2 separate regions of the Homo sapiens genome follow, and region 1 is linked to region 2. A link means that fine-mapping ties the variant in region 2 to the expression of a gene that starts in the linked region. Tissue or cell type: whole blood. Region 2 holds a variant in brackets; the other region holds the start of a gene. All regions are shown on one strand. Distances are between the middles of the regions.

Region 1 (8,220 bases), 63 kb after region 2:
AGGATTGCTTGAGCCTGGGAGGGTGAGGCCCCAGGGAGCTGTGACTGCACCACTGCATTCCAGCCTGGGTGACAGAGCGAGACCCTGTTTTCAGGAAAAAAAAAAAAAAAAAGAAAAAAAAATTCTTACACTTATAATTAATGTAGCCATGTGAAGTATTTTAATACTTGTATATATTAAGCACTGTGTCAGTGTGTGTGCACTGCTGAGAAGTGAGCCCTGGTGGAGGCTTCGAAGAGCATCCTGGAACCCCCTAGGCTCCGAGAAGTCCTGAGGTCAGGGAGTTTGCAGAGAGCAGCCTTGGCTCAATGCTACAGAAGCCAGAGGAGATGGAATCTGCAAATCTCCAAATTCACTTCCACCCAACTTCCCAAAAAGTACTATTATCCGTTGTTAGCTACTTCTTTAGGAAAATTTAAGAATGATCTCGCTTTTCACCACCCAATGTTATACCGGAAATATATTTCAGGAAGCAAGTGGCTTTTCTTCCTTAATAAAAGCCAAGGCTTCAAAGAGATAACGGAGCTGAACCGAAATAGCTAAGCCATTCTCCCCATTTATAAATATTACATAAAGTCTCCTCTTCAAAAGCCGAAGGGTACAAAGCTCCTCTGCTGAAAGCAGCCTCTCTTCTACCTGGTGAGAATGAGTGCTGTAGGGAGGAAGGCCATGGGGCCAAGGTTCCCGCTATGCATCATCTTCCCTATCCCCTTCTCTTTCTCCTCTGTATCAACAGTGCCCCCAATAATGACCATGGTCATGGCAGAGCCGGGCAGGCGCAGCAAGGGGCAAACTCAGATATCCAATTCCAGAGGCATCTGCTCAGTTGCTGACAGCAAGGACCCTTACGGAATGCAAGAGACCAACACACACCAAGCCTGAGAGGCTAACTAGTACACAACCTAAGTTTAATGGCACGTATTTTCATAAAGCCTACGAAACGCAAATCTACGTTTCCTCCCTTTTCCTTCTGCCAAGACATATCAATAGCATCAACTCCAACCTCTGTCCCAGGCAGGTTTTCGAACCGTGAAAACCGTGAATTCACAGTAAACCTGACTCTGCAGTTCTCTCCATGCCTAAATGGCTATCCATCGCCTTTCAGGGTCTCCTGAACATCTCCCTTCTTCTCTCTTGTCACATCCTGGAGTTGATATCCCAAACTCACAGGCCTAATCCATCATTCTTTCATTTTCTTCATTCCTCAACTATTTTTGAGCATCTACTGTGCTCCAGGCACTATTATTAAAAAAATGCAAGCATGAATATTGCACAGCTTTTGTCTTCCCAATGTCCCAGCAGAGAAGAGAGACTTCTAGATTAAAAAAGAAAAAAATCAGTACAATCCTATGTGAGAGGAGTCACAAAGCAATACACACGACCACCTTCACAGAGGAGGGAAGGGATATGTTAGCCTGGTGCAGACGGATAAGGTTTTACACAGGTGGTGATGTCTAAGCTGACTCTTAGAAGTAAAAGGATTTCAGGTGCAAACGACTGAGAAAGAGGGAAAACAGAATTTGTAAAGGCACCAAGATCTGAACGAGTAGGCTCTGGTCCAGGAAGGGCAACAGGTTCAGAATGGCTGGAATGCCAGCTGCATGGAAGGGTAAGGTTGTGTTCAGATTCAGAAAGGCCTTGTACATCACGCCAAGAAACCTGGAGCATTACCGTCGATAATGGACAACCTGGAGAAGTGCGGAGAGGGTTTAAACCAAAGCCACGTCAGCCTGAAGAACTGCTTTAGCTCACTTATCACAGGTTTTTCAAATATTAGAATTAGTAGCCAACATCTAAAAATTAGCAAATTTCACATAAAAATATAGAATCTTGGTTCCTTTAAGAAAATAATCTGGCACATTGGGCCAACATTCCTATGGTGACATGTGTCTGAGTAGCAGGTGCAGCAGCTGGCCCCTTCAAGTGGGACACCTATCACCTAGTTCATAACCGCCCCTGACCGCCCTCACTTGGAGGCATGTGAATCTGCAATCCCTGGTTTTAAGGGAGAGGGTAACACCATAGACAGGGGTTACAGGAAAATGACACTGAAAGTGACCCAGTGATTAAACTGGGCAGTGAAACTGAAGGCAAGAGGGCAAGTTAGGAGGATTTCACCACAGCATGAGGAGGTGACAAAAGCCTGAACCAAGTTCGGAGAATAAATACTCAGAAGAATGTAAAGATTCAAGAAATGCTTAAAACGCTCCAGGCACAAGAATGCTTATTAACCATGGAACTTTTCTGTGTCATTTGTTCATGGACAAAGACTGTATTAGGAGACAGGAAGAAGGACTCAAAATTAATTTTCAATTTATAATTAAAGTGACTATTAAGCAAACTGTGGAAAATCCACCTCAATGCCATACAGCAGAGACAACCGATGAGGCACAGCTGTCTGTGTGATTCTCATCGTGGACTCTCAGGATCGTTTTCCAGGTGGAACAGAACAAATCCTACTGCAAACCCTCTGCGCGAAGCCCCTGACAAGTGAGGTTTACAAGCAGGGGCTGGGGTCTAAACCAGTACAATCGCTCACAGCAGGACCAGCAGTGAATTGGCAAACTTAGAAAGCCTTCCAGCTCATCCACGGGAGAGTCCTGCCCGAGAACTCACAGAGGCCGTTGACATCCAGCATGTTGGAGATGCCCCGGTCACTCATGTCCACCTCGGGCTGGTTCTTCTCCCGGCTCTCCTCCACCAACTTCTTCAGAGACTTGGACATGGTCTGCACCGAACAACAACAAAGCACGTGGGCGATGACAGCAAGCGCAGAGGCGGAAAGGCAAGAGGCCTTCGCTGCCACTCTGAGGCTTCCCCAGGGTTGGAGCGGGTGGGCGTCCGAGGGCGTCCCAGGGGCTGGTCCGGGTGCGGGGAGGGGATGGAGTGGGAAGGGTTCAGCCCCGCTGCGGCCACGCAGCGAGAAGCAACCCCAAGTGCAACACCGCACACACTCACCACGGAAGGTAGCCCCTAAGACGATGGGCGTGCAACCACAAGCTTCGGCAGAACGCACTCCAGCTGCCCTCACTCCCTGCAACACCGGCACTGAACAGCGAACACGCCCTGTCTCGGCGCCCCGCGCAGGCGCACACAGCGCCGCTGCCAGCTCCACGCCCGACCCTACCCATATTAGGAGAACAGCTCTCCAGACGTGTCTCCAGGGCCAGGCTCCGCCCTTAAAAGTCTGTGGAAGAGGCTGGCTAATCACGTTCGTTATTCGGCTTCGAGACCCCGCCCCACGCTGAGGATAGTTTATCCCGGTGGCGTCCACCCCACGGTTTGGGACGCTGATTGGGCCGAAGTTGGCGCGTGCGCAGTAGACTTGGCGCAAGCTCAGTTGATGGGTCGAAGCCCAGAGGGCTGTGGGCGGAAGTGGGGAAGTTTGTGGCGTGACTGTGTAAGGGAGGGTGGTGGCTCAGGGTGGGTGTTGCGAAAGCTGGAAGTAAATTGCTTCCGAATGTTTCGCTTGTGTAATAGCCGCTCCACTCGCCAGAAGTTGCTACCCTGAGCCCGTCTCCACAATGTGCCTCTGAGGGACCTTGTGGGGCACGCAGTTTCCCGCCCTATTAAGAGCTTCTCCAGGCGGGGATTCCGGCGCGGTCTGCGTTTCCCCAGCGCCCTGCTGGAAATCTTTTTTGACAGGTTTCTAAGGCTGGCTTTTAGCCTTTTTACTTGTAGCTAGAACCTACAAGTAAAACCCTACTATTTTAAAAGTCATTTGAAAACACCACTAAAGCGATGTGTCTTTCCCAACTAGGACTTTTACATTTGTGAAACATGACGTTCTGGCTTCCAGGAATCTCTTGCTTTCTCTTCCAAAAGCAACCAAATTTTAAATTCTAGAGAAACTGTTGCCCTCTGCCTCCCTATTTCCTGACCCAGTCTCAGTCACCCAGCAACATCCTGTGCTTCTCTCACCAAAAACCCTGTCCTGAGAGACTATTTTATACTATGGAATAAAAATTGGCACCAGGCACTTTTCTTCTACTGGTCACCTAAATTGATGATAAGACGGATGCCACACATATGCATTTATATATTGTAGATTGTAGCAGGGATCAAAGCCTTAAGGAGATGTGGTAAAATAATGTAATTATATCTCCGAACCAATTGGATAAAAAAAGGATCTGCACTCTTAAATTCGAAAGCAGGTATTTCTTGCTTAAAAAACATTCCAGATGAAAGAGTTATTCCTCCATTAGTCTTCTTTGATCTGGAACCGTCCTTGGCTTTTATGTTTATTGAACTAGACATTATTTAAGAATACAGACCAGGTATTGTGTGGAATATCCTTCAAAGTAAGTTTGATGTTCCCTTTCAGGTTATGAATTTTTGGAGAAACACCACTAAAGCGATGTGTCTTTTCCAGTGCATGATATCAAGGTACAGATGGCATCGGTTTCTCCCAGTATAGGTGATGTTCACTTAAATAAGGTAGTGTCTGCCAGGTTTCTTCACCATAAAGTTACTATTTTTTTCTTTATGATTAAAAATAATGCTGGGGGGAGGTGCTACTTGATTACACCCCATTCCTCATCTAATTTTTACCCACAAGTTTTAGCATCCACTGATGATTTTCTAACTTCATAATTTCATCAATACGTATTAGTAGGTAATCTCCTAATACATTTATTTCTTGAATCATTAACTCTTTTAAAGCAAAAGTCCTGTTTTGAAGCAATCAGAATTTTTCTTATTCTATCAATTTCTAATAGTGAATCTTGCCTAGGTAGGCTGAAGACATACAGTACCTGTGTTAGTCGGCTAGGGCTGTCGTAACAATATACCACAGCCTGGATGGCTTAAACAACAGAAATTTCTCACAATCCTGGAAGTTCTAGATCAAGGTGCCAGCAGATTTGATTTATCCTGTGGCCTCTCCCCTGCCTCGTGGACGACTGTCTTCTCTTGGTGTCCCTCCAGGGCATTTTCTCTATGCAGTCACACCCTTGGTGTCTCTTCTTCTAAGGACACCAGTCCTATTGGACTGCCGGCCTATAATAACACCCTGCATTTGTTTCATGAATGTACTCTCTTCTCAGGTATCACCGAGGATAATAGTTTTTAAACCTCTCTTCTGTTCACTCAATTATGTTTCTTCAAGGGTCCATTCTTACGTGTATTTATCTAGTCTTTTCCCTAGAAAAGAAAGATTCTTCCCCTCTCTGGTGATTGATTCTTGGTTGTTCTTTTGAGTTCAAGTGTGAAGATCTGAACTGGTTTTTCTAGATAGCTGGAGTGGTCTCTTGTTTGTTTGTATTGTTTTCCTCCTAGATCCCTAGACTGATAGTCGAATTTCTTCAGAGGCAAGAACCCAGTATTATGCCTGCAGGTCATCACCCGGCTACCTTTGCAGGTGGAGGGAAATGGTGGATTGTGAGTGCCAGTTAGGGCAACTCCCTGACTTTGGTTTTAGCCCCTCACACTGCACCAGCCAGCCCCACATCCAGGTTACACCTGGAACAGAGAGTCCCAGCCCTCCTGCATGTCTCTCTTGAAGTTATTTTGAGCTGCATGCCTCCATTCACTTCTGTTTCATAGGAATTTGTTTTCACTCCTGTTTGAGATAGGAAAAACCAAACTGTTTTTGCTACTCTCCACTGGCTCAACACTTCTGACACCAGAGAATCCCCCACACATGAAACAGTTCTCCAGCAGACACCAGCTCGGTGTCTTACAGTTTAACTTAATTCTGACACTGTCTACCTCAACTTATAGTCAAATCCCACAAGTTAAGGGTTCATTTCCACAAGACTTTAGGTTGACTGTCACCTACACTTCTGACTGACCAGCTATAAATCAGGGTTCCCACACCCCCTTCTCAGGTTTGATTAATTTGCTAGGATGATGGTTAGCCTGTCCAGGGTCCTGATTGCTAGCAGTGAAACTTCATGGTGACACAATTTGGAATCAGGAAACTTATCCCTTGGCCACTAGATCTGGGAAGTTGGCTCAATGTATGTTTCACCAGATAAGAATATTAAGGTTTTTGCCTCAGGACTGGCTCAGGAAATCAAGCAAGATGGAGCTGGGAAGTGTGCTTTGTGAAGCTGGGAGACATCAGCTGATAGTCTTGTATGGCTGTCTTGTTCTCTGCTTTATCCTCAGTGCGCTGAGTACGTATCACATAGCTGATGCTCAATAAACATTTGGAAACAAGTGAATTAAATGTAAAGCAGAACCAGAGGATATACGGTGGGTCTTACGAATGAGAGTACAGTTGACTCTTTTCTCCTTCTTCCAGCTGAATTACTCAAAAACTGAATTACTCAATAACTACTTCCCTTGGCTATACACGAAAATGTCATGCTCCCAAGCCTGACCATCCCTAACCCACTAAAAAATCACTGCTTATTTCCTAGATGCCCAGCCTGGAAGATTTTGTAAAGCTTCATTTTGTCTCTTTTTTTCTGTATTTTTAATTTTAAAATTACATAATAATATTGACTATGCTTTCCTCAATTTCAGGTACACACTTCCCAGATATTCCAATATGCCTCCTAGAAAAGCATGCCCTTCTGAGTGGAAATGATACCGTTACTCTAATGATGCAGTCCATGCTCTAAGCATCATTTTTTTGACAGTGACATCATGTTAATCTTTCTTTCAGAAAAGTACTATGTCATTTCATGTTATTGTTAAACTTTCCCTGTATTCTGTACTTTTGCAATTCATTTTTTGATAAAAGAGGAAGATCTTATATCTGTCACATTTCGTCTGTTACAATTGGCCCATTGTTGTAGCTTATCAAGACCTTTTGGATTTGATGGTGTTACTTATCGCATTCACTGTCCTTTCCAATGTAATTGTCACCCATAAAGTTGATATGTCTATCCATAATACAAAAAGGGAGCAGGAATTGTTGTTGTTGTTGTTTGTTTTTTTGAGATGGAGTCTCATTCTGTAACCCACACTGGAGTGAAGTGGCGCGATGTTGGCTCACTGAAACCTCCGCCTCCTAGGTTCAAGTGATTGTCCAGCCTCAGCCTCCTGAGTAGCTGAATTTTCAAGGTTAGAGTATTTTATTTCTGTGGCTCCATACTCTGTCCAGAAATAATTATCTGCCATTTGAGTATTAGAGTAAGATGAAGTTACATTCCTCAGCTTCTCTCATTCACATGGTCTTTTGTTAATAACCCTTGATTTTGCATAATTAACATAAAGCAAATCTCCTTTGTAAAGGCTTCCGCTTTTCTAGAGGCACTGAAAAACTTTATAAAAGCATTGAATTTTCTTATGAAAAGGAAGCTAATAACTACCTCACTTAGTTACATGTCTGGCAGCATTGGAGATAAGGATGTGCTACTGAACTTTCTACTTCTTGTTAAGTGGCAAACCATATTGTTTATTTATAACTTAACATATTGTGTTAAGGAATAGGCAATGGTGGTGCTTATGGAAACTTTGTACTCCTGAGCGTAAATACATAATAGAGTTTGGATATTTGTCCCTGCTCAAATCTCATGTTGAGTTATAAAAGCCAGTGTTGGAGATCGGCCTGGTGGGAGGTGTTTAGATCGTGGGGGTAGATCCCTCATGAATGGCTTGGGCCATACCCTTGGTGATAAGTGAGCTCTTGCTCTGAGTTCACATGAGAGCTGGCCACTTAAAAGTGTGTGGCACCTGTCCCATACTCTCGCTGTCTTGCTCCTGCTTTCACCGTGTGACATGCCTGTTTCCCCTTCGCCTTCCTCCATGATTATAAGCTTCCTGAGGCTGCCCCAGAAGCCAAGCAGATGTCAGCACCATGTTTCCTATAAAGCCTGCAGAGCTGTGAGCAGATTAAACCTCTTTTCTTTATAAGTTACCCAGTCTCGGGTATTTCTTTATAGCAATGCAAGAATGATCTATTACAGAAAATTGGTACCAGGAGTGGGGTTTTGTTATAAAGATACCTGAAAATGTGGAACTGACTTTGGAACAAGATAATGGGTAGAGGTTGGAAGAGTTTGGAAGGCTCAGAAGACATAAAGATGAGGGAAAATTTGGAACTTCTTAGAGACTGTTTAAAAGTTGCAACTAAAATTCTGATAGTGATATGGATAATGAAGTCCAGGCTGCCAAGGTCTTCGATGGTAATGAGGAACTTAGTGGGAACTGGAGCAAAGGTGACACATATTATGCCTTAGCAAAGAACTTGGCTGCATTCTGTCCATGCCCTAGGGATCTGTGGAAGTTTGAACTAAAGAGTGGCAACCTGGGGTATCTGGTGGAAAA
Region 2 (8,520 bases):
CTGCAGAAGCTCCCCAGCTATTACTTATGCTAACATCTGTGGTTATTAACCACTGTACAAGATCTCTCTTTTTTTTTTTTTTTTCCTTTCAACAAGGTCTTGTTCTGTCACCCAGCCAGGAGTGCAGTGGCACGATCACTGCTCACTGCAGCTTTGACCTCCCAGGCTCAGGTGATCCTCCCACCTCAGCCTCCCGAGTAGCTGGGACTACAGGCATGCACCACCACGTCCAGCTAATTTTTTGTACTTTTTGTAGAGACGGGGTTTCACCATGTTGCACAGGCTGGTCTCAGACTCCTGGGCTCAAGCTATCCGCCTGCTTCGGCCTCCCAAAGTGCTGGGATTACAACTGGGAGCCACCGTGCCCGGCCCGAGATCTCTCCTTTAACAAGAAGTTTTTTGCCTTGAAAATGTTTGCAAAAAGCGTTTCTTGATTCTGTCACCCTGCTCCCAAAGCAACACGTGACTACTTGCAACTCAGTAAAGAGAAGTGTTGAGTTGCTCCTCAGCCCTTAAAAAATCATTAAATAATCCTCTAGGTGGATTTTTAACACTAGCAAGAGAGCTAAGGGAAATGGCAAGAGAGGAGGCGGGACTTCCCAGCTGGTCCACGAAATCACGTGACTGCCTTCCCTTTAGACTAATATGGCTGCCAACAGAACTCAAGGTGCTGATAGGCGTGCTCTGTGTCTCAGTCTTCCTATGCGTAACCATTAGCCACATGAGCCTGCTCATAACCTTCCTAACGTCCTGTCATCCAAGGTCCTTGCTTCATTAATTCATTCAGTCAGTGTTTTCTGAGCACCTACTGTACCCGAGGGAACAAATACAAAAATGTCCCTGCCCTCCTGGTGATTGCATTCTAATTTCTAACAAATGGCCTCTTCAAACTGCCAAACTTGTTTAAAGAACTGCTTCCTCAATGTGTTTCTTAAAAATGATGGTATTTTGGAGTAGAAAAGCAAATAATCGCAGTTTGAGAAAACAATGTGGTTCAAAGGACTGAAGAAATGAGAGGCTATGGAGGGTCTGCACAAGAAAAGATAAGGGAACTCGTGAACCTTTTGCAGTGGAACGAAGCAGTAACAGAATTACTGGCTTGGAGGTTATTTCTGGCGGGGGACATAAACCCACCCTGGAAATAGGAACGACCTGGCAGAGAAACAGGATTAGGATTCAGCGGCCAGGAGTAGGATCCATTCCCAGCAAGAACATATTTAACAATTCCTACTAGAGATGGGATCAGGAGAGAGGCAAATTCACGACCCGCAGAGGTATCAACATGTTCAAGTAGCCATAACAACTACTTTAACTATTTGGTAAAAGTTTTTCCAGGTCAATAAAAATTTAAGGGGTTAAAAAGTAAGAGTGATACTTAAAGTTATTAATAACCAACCAAGACCCAGAAAGCTTACCCAGCTAGTCAATGAGGAGCCAGGGATAAGGCTCTTACTACTAATCCCATGCTTTTCCCACTACATCACGCAGGGAGCTGAGCGGGGTCATCTTTCATCAGCAGTTTCTAAGACAGGGGACACTACAGCTGCAGAACACAGGATCCGGGAAGGTCAAACCTGTAACAGCTAACTCTGGTCAATGACAAATGGTTCTCAAATGATCAGCATCGTGTGCCTAGGTGGAGAGTAGTTGCCAAGAAGAGGACAGAGGTTGTTCAGAATTGCTACATTAGGATAATTGTTATTCATGAAACCCAGAACTAAGTTCATTCATCAGCAACCTTACCTAGTTCTGGGGGCAGAACGGTGAGGCGGTTCCCCTGAATGTGGAGCTCTTTAAGCTGGGTAAGCTCCCCGATTTCCTTAGGCAGCGAGATCAGGTCGTTATCCCTAAGGCTGAGCTAAACAGAAGAAAACAAGTTGTCAACATATTTACACATTAAAAGGTGCTCCACAGAAACTCTCATCCTCTATGTCCTCTCTTCTACTAAAGCTCAATCCTTTCCATGTATTTACAAGTGCCGGCGGATAATCAAGAAACACTATCAGGAGTAGTGGTTTATTCCCACAAAACAAACCTTACTCCTGCTCAAATTGACTTGATTCTACCCCTACAAGGCTGCAGCAGTGAATTGATTTTCTAAGAATTTAGATAAATTACTTACTATCTGCAACTTTGTGAGCTTCCCAATATCTGGCGGCAGGATTTCAAAATCGTTGTCACTTAGATAGAGTGCACGCAGGGTGGCTGCAAATTAAACAGCAATATATAAACAGGGTGGCATGGAACACAACCATTTGAGGTCTGATCAATACGAGGGAGTCAGCTTTGATTAATAACCCTGGCTTGGTGAAAAGCCTTTGACATACCTAGGGCTCCCAATAATAACAAGCAGGTCAAACTTAGATTTACTGGCTTATTGTGTAGCTGGTGTGTCCAGGAAAACATCTATATCCAAGAGGAATGACGCAATTAACAACTGTGGGCGCCAGCATTTTGGGGCACAGAGTTTCAGCACATTTTCAGAAAAGATTGCTATACTTCTCATAGATTACTTTTGATTCACATTTATTTCTCCATTTGCATCCAAAGTAAAACAAAGAACACTACTGTGCCACTTTTATGGATACCTAGGGCAAAAGGGTTCTTTCAAGAGAATACAGCTCTGTTAAAATAGACCTTTTCCTATGTAAATAGCACTGTGTTACAAATTAATGGAAGGCTTTCTGGTGATGGAGGCTATAACCACAGCTCATCAGTTCCATAATCTGACTAATTATTACTACGTGTTTCTACAGCCTTAAGGACAAAAGTAAATGAAGACAAAGAGGCTAAAATAATGACATGAAGTTAACAGAGTAAATCCTAACTTAAGGAGAATATCAGTAGTCAGAAATTTGTTCATAATTATTACACAATGATAATACGATTCCAACCTACTGAAGGCTAAAATTCTAAAGCATCTGTTTATCTTCAACCAAAAAAGCTGAGTATAATTAGATACATGTTTTGTTTACCCGTATTTATTTTTTAGAGACAGAGTCTCGCTCTGTCACCTAGGCTGGAGTGCAGTGGGTCACTGCAGCCTCAAACTCCTGGCCTCAAGCACTCTTTCTACCTCAGCCTCCCAAGTAGCTAAGATCACAGGCTCATGCTACTATGCCTGGCTACTTTTTAAATTTTTATTTCTAGAGACAGGGTCTCTCTATGTTGCCCAGGCTGGTCTTGAACTCCTAGCCTCAAGTGATCTTTGTAGCTCATACTCCCGAGAACTGCATGTTAATATAACATAATAAAAATAGTTGCTCCACTGCCCAAGAAAATATTTTATAGTTGGTTTCATGTGCTTGAGAAAGTCATAGAAAGGTAATGTACGTAAGGTAAAAAATAAAATTTTAGAGATCAGCTCTGAAAATTCAGATTTTCTGAATGCCACACAAGTTACTATTTGAAGAAATAGAACACTGATTTAAGGGAAGCAAACCTTGTCCAAAATAGTGCATGAGTTCCCAGAAGAAATCATTTTTTAATTTTCAAAAGCATCTCCAGCAAGAAATTTGTTTGCATATGAAAGAATAAAGTGTGTTCACCTGTGGCCAATAATTTCTTAATGCCTGTGTACTGGATAAATAGGTCAATAAGAGTACTTTTTAAAAGGCTCAAAATAGGAATACTGGCTGGAAAATTTTAAAATTGTGTTACTGGTTTATTAATAAATATTTTTAATAAATAATTGGTTGGAATATCCTGGGCAAATATCCTACAAAGAATTAATAGCAACATAGGAAGATACTTTTTTTTTTTTTTTTGGCATGCTATTTAAAAAGAAAGTCAAGTCTCTTAGCTAAATGTGAGGCTTGATCTCATTTAGGTATATAATCTCTCTCAGAATGTTAATATGACATTACTAAGTCCACTTCAGCCCAATGGTGTCACATAACGATCTATCAAATGCACATACTGCTGAGCTACGAAGGAATATTCAAAAGGAGTCTCTAAAGAAAAAATTATCTCTGTCCAATAATTTCTCTTGGAGTTTGGGTCCTGGCAAATAAATTTCCCTCTCAGAACGCAAAGTACAAGGTTGAGGAGATTTATAGAATTGAAAGTTTCTTACTCAGGTAGAAGAAGTTTCCAGGAAGAGAATTTTCGCTCAAGTTGTTGTA[C/A]GTCAAGTCCAGAACCTCAAGAGCTGGCAGGGAGCCGAAGCCTCGTGGCAAAGTGTTCAGCCTGTTCATGCTGTTGCAGGGGGACAAAAATCTATGTCATGACACCAAAGACACATTCATACAGACTATCAAGGGCACCTCTGTTTCAGACGCTGAAAGTGTAAGACAGTGCCATGATCCTAGAGTCACTTTATACTTTATTTTTATTTTTTATTTTTTTGAGACAGGGTCTTACTCTGTTGCCTAGGTTTTAGTGCAGAGGCATGATCTCAGCTCACTGCAGCCTCAACCTCCCCAGGCTCAAGCGATCCTTCCACTTCAGCCTCCCAAGTAACTGGGACCACAGATGCACGCCACCACGCCCTGCTAATGTTTGTATTTTTTGCAGAGATGGGGTTTTGCCATGTTGCTCAGGCTGGTCTCAAACTCCTAAGCTCAAGCAATCCTCTCACCTAGGCCTCCCAGAATGCTGGGATTACAGGCGTGAGCCCCCATGCCCATCCTTTTTTTTTTTTAATTAAAAAAAGCATTTATTTAATATTTACAATGACAAAGATTGTACATACTTATGGTGTACAACATGATACTTCTGATGTATGTATACTACATCATGGAATGGTTTAAATCATACTATTTAACACACGCGCTGCCTCATATGCTTGTCATTTTTTTTGTCTTTTGTGGTGAGACTGCTTAAAATTCACTCTCTTAGCAATTTTCAATTATACCACATATTGTTATTAACTGCAGTCACCATGATGTACAATCCATCTCTTGAACTTATTTCTCCTAACTAAAATTTCATGTCCTTTGGCTAACATCTCTGCAATTCCCCTCTCCCTCCAGCCTGTGGTAACCATTTTATTCCCTGTTTCGATGAGGTTTACTTTTTTACATTCCACATATAAGTGAGAAGGTGTGGTATGTTGTCCTATTTAGGCTAATAATTTCAGTCAGACAGCTTACATGATCTTGAAACACTTGAAAATTTCTTAGCTGTTATTTTCCTCCAACGGTGAAACTTAATCACTGCTTTACACAAAAACTCAAACCATTACAAAATATCTTTCCTTGTAAAGAACAACTTCCCTATGAACGTAGTGATAATATCTCAAAATATACACATGAAGCTTTGTAGTTTTCAGGCTTTTGCTTGATTTCATTCCATTTATTCCTTTTTTGGAGGGAAAATCATGTTTTTGTTCTACAACTGCTAACACTGAAAATTATCTTCAATTAGAATGGTGATGGCCAGGGGCTGGAGGGAGGGGGAATGGAGAGGTGTGGTTTAATGGGCGTAGGATTCAGGTTTGCAAGATGAGAAAATTCTGGGGATTGGCTGAACAACAATGTGAATACGCTTAACACCACTGAACTGTCTACTACAAAGACGGTACATTTTGTGTGCATTTTATCACAACCTAAAAAATTTTTAAATCATACAATTGACCCTTGAGCAACATGGGTTTGAACTTCCTGGGTCCAATGAGACATGGATATTTTTCTTCTACCTCTGCCACCCCTGAGACCGCAAAACCAACCCTCCGCTTCCTCCTCAGCCCACTCAACATGAAGAGGACGAAGACCTTTAAGATGATCCACTTCCACTTAAAGCACAGTAAATGCACTTTCTTTTCCTTACGACTTTCTTAATAACATTTTCTTTTCTCTAGCTTACTTTATTGTAAGAATGCAGAATAGAATACATGTAACATACAAAATATGTGTTCATCAACTATTTCTAGTTTTGGTAAGGCTTCCAGCCAACTGTAGGCTATTAGGAATTAAGATTTTTCGGAGTCAAAAGTAATGTGTGGATTTTTGACTGCATGAGTCATTGTGTTGCTCCCGCAACCCATGTGTTGCTCAAGGGTCAATTGTGTGTGAGTGTGTGTGTGGGGTGTGTGCTGTGTGTGTGTGGTATTGTGTGTGATGTTATGTGTATGTGTATCTGGGTGTTTCGTGTGGTGTGTGAGGGGTGGGGTGTGGTGTGTGAAGGACGTGGGGGGCTGTGTGGGGGCGGGTATGTGTGTGGTGTGGGGTAGGTATGAGTGTGGTGTGGTGTGTGTATAGGGTGTGTTTGGGGGTGTGGTGGTGTGTGTGTACGCAGTGTGTGTGTGGTGTGTGTGTGGGTGTGTTTGTACACGGTATGTGTGTGTGCTGTGGGTGTGGTGCGTGTGGGTATGTGTGGGTGTGCGTGTGTGTGTGTGGGCGTGTCTCCAGTGAAGTCTAAGGGAATTTTTTTCTACACTATCTTTTATCCTTTCTTCAAGCCCCTTATTTTTCTTAACGCAGTTCCCTTTGAGCATACTTAAAAGCCAATTTTTAAAAAAAAAATTTAATAAAAGTTGACAGATACTGAAAGGTGGAAGGGACTGTGACAATAAAAATCATTCTAGCCATCGATCCTTCTCCTAACACATTCAGCTCCATCCAGCCCTACCAAGAGGGCCTCACCAGAAACAGCTGACAGCAGAGGGGGCAACCAAAAGGGAAACGCGGGTTCCCCCTGTCAGGCAGAAAACTTCCCAGACAGACTACACCCAGCAAAACTACCTCCACGACTATCTACTGCCACGACAGCAAGAACAAACATTCTCCATGAAGTCACAATTTGTGAAGCACATTATGGCAAGGACTTCGCTTGTTCACTAAAACTACCTTGCAATACAGGTAAGATGGAGCTTGTCATTAATGCTATGTTGAGATGAAAAAACAGCCTAAGAGAGGGTGAGGAGCCAAGACTTCAGAAGTGACTGATGAAGGCGACATGTGTCTGGAAACACCCCATACCGCACGGAGGCCAAAGCTGCTCCAGACCCTTGGGCTCTGATACAAGGATTCTGAGAAGAATTGCAAGTCAAAGGAAGGACAGCAGAGAAGACCACACTAGGTGCTTCTGTCTTTAAACGCTGCTTTCGGTTATCTCTTTTTGAAAACTGCTGATTCCTTAACATTTTTCTCTGCAAATAAATACACTTTTGCAATATTAGGTAGAGGAAATCCACGGTTAGACAGGCTTAGAGGGAAGAGGCATCTCACCTGAGAGAGAGCTCCCACTCAATCTTCAGCCCAGAGCAAGCCTGGAGCCCCTCCACCTCCTGGTGGCAAGAATCTACTTAATTGCAGATTCCTTTTTCCTTTGAGTGACAAACCAATACCCACAACATTTAAGGAACACAGCAGAGTCCCATGTGCCGCTGACAGCAGTAAGTAACAGTGGTAGGCACACCACCCTGGCGGGCAGAAAGAAGTCCTTAAACAAATGCTAAAACTTCAGAAGAATTGCTAGCAACAGCCCCAGCTACAAAGCGGCCAAGGAACTGCAGAGACTTCTGGCCACCTCTCCGGACACCAGTCCAGGTGGATGGTGACATGGTGGGTTCTCTCTCTGCAGAATGAAGGATGGAACATGCTGGCTGTCCCCCCTCCCTCCAGCAGGTGCTAACATCCATCTCCATCCATCCACATTTTGACACATAGGAATTCCATGCTCAGGGCCCCGCTCTGACACTGCTAGCAATCAAGGTTTCCATGAGAGGCTACAGTGGCGGTAGGAAAAGTATGGAGCTTTAAGGTAGGAGACAGCTAGGTGAGGAGACCGGCTCCAGCACTTGCTAGCTGCGTGACCTTCACCAAGTTACTCAGCTTCTCTGAGACCCAGTTTCCTCAACTATAAAATGAGGCTGACAACACCTTCAGGGCAGGATCACTGAGAGGATAAGAGAGAAAATATCCGAAGCACCCAACACCCAATCCATGGCTCACACGTGGCTTCTCAGGGAATGAGAGCTGTTGCTAGAATTATTTTTCAAAAGATTTGAGAGAAAATTTTGATTTAGCCCTAAGCGAGCAAGCTCACCTCATGACAAGCCACTCTGGATAGTCTCAACTATCAAGTGTGGTTTTCTATTTGTGCCACACTTGGTTAATCTCAGGTGACCTCAGGTGTTGAAACATAAAGCTTCGCAGGGCTCAGCTATGCCAAGTGGTATCAATTCTTTTGTTTGCATGGGAAGATTTTTCAAATGCGTGTTGGAAGTGGGCAAATGCCTGCATATGATGGAGAAGTTGATAAAACCAGGGGGTTTCAGGCTATTTCAGCATCTTTTTTCCTTGTCTTCTAAAGCCCCAGAAAGGTCTGTACTAATGCCTCCTTTTCAGAGCAGTTTCTTCTCCGCAGGTTGTCCTGAGCACCTCCAGCTTCAAAGAAACCTTCTTGTCTAAAGGCACTAATTTTTCTCACCTCCACAGTGACCTACTCACACTTATCAAAAATAAAAATTTAAAAAAATCCAGGCCGAGCCCAGTAGCTCACGTCTGTAATCCCAGCACTTTGGAAGGCCAGCACAGGCAGATTGCTTAAGCTCAGGAGCTCGAGACCAGCCTGAGCAAC

What was found. PIP is the estimated chance that this variant, and not a neighbour inherited with it, causes the effect.
Region 1: it holds the start of RSU1, and the variant in region 2 is fine-mapped to the expression of RSU1 in whole blood (TOPMed, PIP 0.98).

The regions. Positions count from the first base shown.
Region 1 is chr10:16,814,357-16,822,576 of GRCh38, forward strand. RSU1 (Ras suppressor protein 1) reads right to left here and starts at 3,068. Exons shown (of 9, transcript NM_012425.4): 1 at 2,959-3,068; 2 at 2,617-2,728. The coding sequence starts at 2,725. It overlaps LOC105376435 (a long non-coding RNA gene), which reads left to right and starts at 3,343. Exons shown (of 3, transcript XR_930708.3): 1 at 3,343-3,400; 2 at 4,325-4,386; 3 at 6,472-6,901. RefSeq lists enhancers at 2,547-2,706, 3,377-3,486, 3,517-3,606, 3,637-3,686.
Region 2 is chr10:16,750,796-16,759,315 of GRCh38, forward strand. RSU1 (Ras suppressor protein 1) reads right to left here. Exons shown (of 9, transcript NM_012425.4): 5 at 4,076-4,194; 6 at 2,123-2,205; 7 at 1,744-1,858. Among named protein-coding and RNA genes, the nearest start is that of RSU1, 62 kb to the right of the region's middle. RefSeq lists a silencer at 8,487-8,520. The variant C/A (reference allele first, on the strand shown) is at 4,125.